2 linked regions of the Homo sapiens genome follow. The protein of the gene in region 1 interacts with the protein of each later gene in a pairwise test. Each region holds a gene or a part of one and is shown in the gene's direction. Other genes may lie near its edges.

The links.
Region 2: the proteins of ATIC (region 1) and MTNR1A interact in a two-hybrid assay, tested with the Homo sapiens proteins (one large-scale study listed by BioGRID and IntAct).

The regions. Positions count from the first base shown.
Region 1 is NC_000002.12:215,322,059-215,325,558, forward strand, and holds part of ATIC (bifunctional purine biosynthesis protein ATIC), read left to right. Parts: intron 1-3,182; coding exon 3,183-3,271; intron 3,272-3,500. UniProt on the Homo sapiens protein: Bifunctional enzyme that catalyzes the last two steps of purine biosynthesis.
Region 2 is NC_000004.12:186,545,568-186,549,067, reverse strand, and holds part of MTNR1A (melatonin receptor type 1A), read left to right. Parts: intron 1-3,294; exon of another isoform or gene 3,295-3,424; intron 3,425-3,500.

The DNA.
Region 1 (3,500 bases):
CTTGGCTAATTTTTTTGGATTTTTAATAGAGATAGGGTTTCACTATGTTGGCCAGGTTGGTCTTGAATTCCTGACCTCGGGTTATCTGCCCGCCTTGGCCTCCCAAAGTGCTGGGATTACAGGCTTGAGCCACCATGCCCGGCCCACAAAAGTTTTTAATTTTGATGATGTTGAATTTATTTTTTCTTTTGTTGCTTGTGTTAATGGTGTCATGTCTAAGAAACCATTGCCTAATCCTCAGTGATGAAGATTTTTGTGTATATTTTCTTTCTTTTTTTTTTTTTTTTTGAGATGGAGTTTCGCTCTTGTTGCCCAGGCTGGAGTGCAGTGGCGTGATCTCGGCTCACTGCAACCTTCGCCTCCTGGGTTCAAGCGATTCTCATGCCTCAGCCTCGCAAGTAGCTGTGATTACAGGTGCCCGCCACCACGCCCAGCTAATTTTTTTGTGTTTTTAGTAGAGACGGGGTTTCTCCATGTTGGCCAGGCTGGTCTTGAACTCCTGACCTCAGGTGATCCACCTGCCTCGGTCTCCCAAAGTGCTGGGATTACAAGTGTGAGCCACCGCACCCGGCGTGTGTACATTTCTTTTAAGAGTTATTTTAGTGTTAGCTCTTATACTTAAGTCTTTGGTTCATTTTAAGTTAATTTTCATATACAGACATGAAATAGAAGTCTTATTTTATTTTGTATGTGGCTGTCTAGTTGTCTCAGCATCATTTGTTGAAAAGACTGTTCTTTGCCCAATCGAATGGTCTTGGCACCCTTGGTCCATGTGCCTGCTGTTATGCCAGTACTACACTATTACTATAGGCTGGTAACAAATTTTGAAATCAGCAAGTGTGAGTCCTCCAACTTCATTTTTCTGTTTTTTGTTTGTTTGTTTGTTTTGTTTTGTTTTGTTTTTGAGACGGAGTCTGGCTCTGTTGCCCAGGCTGGAGTGCAGTGGCGCGATCTTGGCTCACTGCAAGCTCTGCCTCCCGGGTTCACGCCCTTCTCCTGCCTCAGCCTCCCGAGTAGCTGGGACTATAGGCGCCCGCTACCATGCGCAGCTAATTTTTTTGTATTTTTAGTAGAGACAGGGTTTCACCGTGTTCGCCAGGATGGTCTCGATCTCCTGACCTCGTGATCCGCCCGCCTCGGCCTCCCAAAGTGCTAGGATTACAGGCGTGAGCCACTGCGCCCGGCCCCAACTTCGTTTTTTTTATTCAAGATGACTTTGACTCTTCAGAGTCCCTTGCATTTCCACATGATTTTTAGAATCAGCTTGTCCATTTCTGCAAAACAACGCAGTTGGAATTTTCATAGGTATTGTGTTGAATCTGTAGATCAATTTGGGAAATGTTACCATCCTAAGAATATTAAATCTTCCAGTCTGTGAACATGGGGTGTCTTTAATTTCTTTAACATTGTCTTGTGAAGTAGAATTGTTTTCTTAATTTTTTTCTCATTCACTGCTAATGTATATTTTAATACAATTGATTTTTATATATTGATCATATATCCTGCGGCTTTGCTGAACTCATTTATTAGTGCTAAAAGGTTATTTTTGTGAATTTGGGATTTTCTGTATACTAGGTGGTATCATCTGCAAATAGATATAACTTCACTGCTTTCTTTCCAGTCCTGATGCCTTTTATTTTCTTTTCTTTGCTAATTGCTCTGGCTAGAACTTCTAGTACAGTGTTCAGTAGAAGTGGTAAGAATGGACATTATTGTTTTGTTTCTTTTTTTTAAGATGGCGTTTTGCTCTTGTTGCCCAAGGCGGAGTGCAGTTGCGTGATCTTGGCTCACTGTGACCTCCGCCTCCCGGGTTTAAGTGATTATCTTGCTTCAGCCTGGGGTTACAGGCATGTGCCACCTTGCCTGGCTAATTTTGTATTTTTAGTAGAGATGGGGTTTCTCCATGTTGGTCAGGCTGGTCTTGAACTTCCAACCTCAGTTGATCCATCCTCCTGAGCCTCCCAAAGTGCTGGGATTGCAGGCGTGCGCCACCTTGCCCGGCTAATTTTTGTATTTTTAGTAGAGATGGGGTTTTACCATATTGGCCACGCTGGTCTCGAACTTCTGACCTCAGGTGATCTGCCTGGCTCAGCCTCCCAAAGTGCTGGGATTATAGGCATGAGCCACTGCGCCTGGCCTCTTGTCTTGTTTCTGAGTTGAGTAGACAAGTATTTTAGTCTTTCACCATCAAGTATGATGTTAGCTGTGGGTTTTTCTTACACTTTGTCATGTTCAGTAAGTTCCCTTCTATTTTTAATTTGCTGAGTGTTTCTATATGAATACCTGTTGAATTGTGTCAGATCCTTTTTGTACATCTATTGAGATGATCAGGTGGTTTTTGCATTTTTCTGGATTCAGTTTGTTAGTGTTTTGTTGAGAGTTTTTGTGTGAAGATACCTAAGAGATACTGGTCTCTAGTTTTCTTGTGACATTTGTCTGGTTTTAGTAGGAGGGCAGTAGACTTAATAAAGATGAGCTGCAAAATGTTTCCCCTCCAATTCTGTTCTTCTGTTTTTGTTTTTGTTTTTTTTAATTAGTTTTCAGCAGTTAGGCTTGTTTGGAGCCTGCCCGTAGAGCTCCTCGCACTACAGGCCTAGGAGTGGAACTGTACTTCACTGATTGTTAATTTTAGATTACTTCTGTATTTTAAATTATTCTTTTGGCATTCCTGTTACCATCATTTTTATGACCTCTCTGAAGGCAAAACAAATGTTTCACCCTTAGAATGCTCTGATATTTTTCATCATTGTGCCAATCCACTGGAAAAAGAATCTAAATTCTAATGTTCTGGATAATAGTGATCACATTCCAAAATGAGAATGTTATCTGTAATCTTGTACTTTATACTTCTATTAAAATGTTCTATAAATTTTTCATGGCTTGGTGGTTCTGGGTAGCTAAGGTTATGCAAGCAGCAGCGTTGCAGTGTGACGTGGAGGGAGTACTGTGTATTCAGATCCGGGGAGCACCTGCTGACTAAATTACCTCTGCTCGACCCCAGCAGGACACCCTGACTTTTTAACACACTCGTTAGAATTCTAAAATGTCAGGCTCACAGTTTATATATTAGTTCTCTATGGCTTTTGTTTACGTTAATAGTACTGACTTGTTTTTTTCCTAGATAGCTGTAAACCACATGAGTGGACTTTTTAATGACAGCCAGATTCGTCTTTGTTTTATAGAGTTGTTGCCTGCAATCTCTATCCCTTTGTAAAGACAGTGGCTTCTCCAGGTGTAACTGTTGAGGAGGCTGTGGAGCAAATTGACATTGGTAAGTCAGAAAAACCATTTTAGAAGACTGAGAGGAGAGGATTATTTAAATTTTAGTGAGATTTCATTTTGAATTTTATTACTGAGGAAATAGAAAGAAAATAGCTACTTCTGGATTGTGTTTTGGGATTACTATAATTCATTTATATTTTCTTTTTTTCATTTATATTTTCTAAGCTTTTTTTGTATGCAGAGATGCATCTGGGTTATTTTCCTGATTTATTTATTTA
Region 2 (3,500 bases), on another chromosome or scaffold:
ATGTGGTTTAAATTGCAATTTTTACTTTTAAGATTTTTTGCCAGTTAGTTTTCATTCCATTTTTTCCTTTTATTATTTACTTATCTTTTTTAGCTCCTTTCGTTGTTCCCTCTGAATTTGGAATACTTCCAACTGTTCTCATTTGTGTATATGTCTGTGTAGGTATCATATAGTCTTTTACCATGTACTTTTTTTAAAAGATTGTTTTACATATATAGTGTATATATATATATATATATATATATATATATATATATCTTTATAGATTAAGCATTCCTTATCTATGGAAGATTAGTGCTATTATAGGTCATTTTTTTTGGGATGTGTCCCTCTGAAACACATGGCCTCTGGAACCAGATGCCTGGAGTAAAACCCGGGCTTTGCCATCTCATGCGTGTGACATAGGGCAAGTGACCTAATTTGCTCAGTTTCCTCACTTGTTAATTTGGGACAATACTAATATTGTAAGGACTAAATGGCTTGCTGTATACTTAAAGTGCATTATGAATTAAATATAACATTCCCAGCAGCAGAATAAATTCCTTTTGTTAGTTAGTATTCTTGGTGTAGAGTTCTGATGTGTAAACATATTTTTATTTTTAAGGCAGAATGCAATATTTCACACTTACAGGTCTTTAAATACTCTGTAAGTACATAAAAATAGAGTCAAAGTTTTAACTTTTAAAAAGTTACTTTTATGAGAATATTATTTTATACTTTTGTAGTGTTAACATATTTTCCTGTCATTGATTTAACTTTCATATATAAATAGGGTTCTATTATGATTATACCATTTTTAATAAAACTCTCTTTTGGATTTAGCAATTTAGAGTTATTATTTAGTGCAGTTAATCTGTTTATTTAAGATGGGGTTTTCACTGAGTCCTTCAAGGTTCGGAAAAGTGCCTAAGGGAAAAAAGACTCCTACCCTAAAGAGAGTTCATATAGTTTTTTTTTGATTGCCTGTTAATGTCGCTGAAGGATTATGATTTTGTTTTTGTTAAAGTTTCATCCTAAATTCTCTAAGACGAATAAAGGTACAGTATCAGTAATTCGTCTTCCATTTAAGGGTGAAAGGCTGAACCAGTCAGGCTGTACTGTGGATGTTTTACAAGTTACAAATGCCTCACTAAACCACCCTTCTCAGAAGACAGTCACTGGGCATAGAAAATGAGCAGGATTATTTGCAGGATGTTACACCTTTAACACTGACTGAAATCCAGATGGGAACAAGCAGGAATGTGTATGATTTCTTAAAGACACCTCAGGTGCCTTTGGTCTCTCGTATTGTATATACAGTGTATATGCAATACAGTGTACAATGTAAAGTGTACAGTGTACAATACCGTGTATAATAGAAAGCAGTGCCAAGGTCTACTAGTTTTCTCTACAGCAGCAGTCAACAGTCAAGTTAGAGAACAGGTGGGGAACTAGAGACAGAGTGGGATAGAGAGAGAGAGGAATGAGCCAGGAGGACACGTGGAATCCAGGAGGCAACGGAGCCCTGAGGTGCTCAGATGGAACAGGGTGTTCAGACAACCGCGAGTACCATGAACCAGGTGTGGGACGACGGTGTGTCCCAGGAACAGGGTGTGATGGGTACAGCATGTCCCAGGAACAGGGTGTGAGGAGGACAGTGTGTCCCATGAACAGGGTGTGAGGACAGTGTGTCCCACGAACAGGGTGTGGTGTGGACAGTGTGTCCCACGAACAGGGTGTGAGGAGGACGGTGTGTCCCACGAACAGGGTGTGGTGTGGACGGTGTGTCCCATGAACAGGGTGTGGCGTGGACGGTGTGTCCCATGAACAGGGTGTGGTGTGGACGGTGTGTCCCATGAACAGGGTGTGGTGTGGACGGTGTGTCCCATGAACAGGGTGTGGTGTGGATGGTGTGTCCCAGGAACAGGGTGTGAGGAGGACGGTGTGTCCCAGGAACAGGGTGTGAGGACGGTGTGTCCCAGGAACAGGGTGTGAGGACGGTGTGTCCCACGAACAGGGTGTGGTGTGGACGGTGTGTCCCACGAACAGGGTGTGGTGTGGACGGTGTGTCCCAGGAACAGGGTGTGGTGTGGACGGTGTGTCCCAGGAACAGGGTGTGGTGTGGACGGTGTGTCCCAGGAACAGGGTGTGGTGTGGACGGTGTGTCCCAGGAACAGGGTGTGGTGTGGACGGTGTGTCCCACGAACAGGGTGTGGTGTGGACGGTGTGTCCCACGAACAGGGTGTGGTGTGGACGGTGTGTCCCACGAACAGGGTGTGGTGTGGACGGTGTGTCCCATGAACAGGGTGTGGTGTGGATGGCATGAACAGGGAGCGAGGCGGATGGTGTGTTGTATGAACAGGGTGTGGTGTGGATGGTGTGTTGTATGAACAGGTGTGGTGTGGGTGGCATGAACAGGGTGTGATGTGGGTGGCATGAACAGGGAGCGAGGCGGATGGTGTGTTGTTGTATGAACAGGGTGCAAGGTGAGCAGCGTGTCTCATGAACAGGGTGTGGTGTGGACAGCATATCCCGTTAATGGGGTGTGATGTGGATGGCGTGTCACATGAAGAGGGTATTATAGTTTGGGGAGTTTAAGGAGTTAAAGGCTGGGAGAAGGAGTCACCAAGTATGTCACTGAATACTGCAGGGCTATTGAAGCCTGGGCATTGCGGGGTGATGCACTGTCATGTGTGCTGTGGAGAGCCGTGTGTGGAAGGGGGAGGGGAGCAGTGAGGCCGACGGCAGGAGGGGTGGGGGATGAGAGGAGGCTCATCGGCTATGGAGAGACCCCTGTTCCATTGCAGGGATCAGGGAGGATCCTCCCTAGCCAGGACTGTGTGCCAGGGAGGAACCTTCCGTGAAGCAAGACGTGTGGTTTCCATCACAGGGGAACAGAAATAAGACATGAGTGAATAATCCTGCAAAGGAAGATGGGCCACACGCCCTCAAATCCTCACCACGGCCCTAAGCAGCTTGATTTATTGCATATTAAGAGACTGAGGCTGTGGGAAGCTGTGACTTACCTGAGGTCACGTTAGCAAGTGGCGTGGCTGGGATCTGAATCCGGCTTTTGTTTCCACACTCATGGTGCACACTGCCTCTAGTAATCTGAAAAGACACTTTTCTAAGGTATAGTCTCTTTACATTTAAGAATCTAAAACATGGACTGTGTGCTTTGATGCCTCGAAGTAAAGCCCTTCCCTTTCCCTTGTACTGCCAGAGAATATTCCCTACACACCTGCGGTAGCTCAGCTTTCTCTTATCATACAGGTAACATGTATGCACGTGCAATTTTAAAAAATACAAACCAAGTTTGTAAATAGTTCTTTATTACTGGTCTTCGTGATGCTTAAGCTCAGGCACACTCAGTTCCTTTTAGTCTTCGTGAACAGTACTATTCAGGGGGCCTCTAATCTTGCTTTCCACGTGGTTAAAGTCCAGGCTGAAATGAAAGAAGGAGTGAATATTGACCTGCTGGGAAAAACCAACATCTTAGTGGATATGAGCAGGAAGAGCAA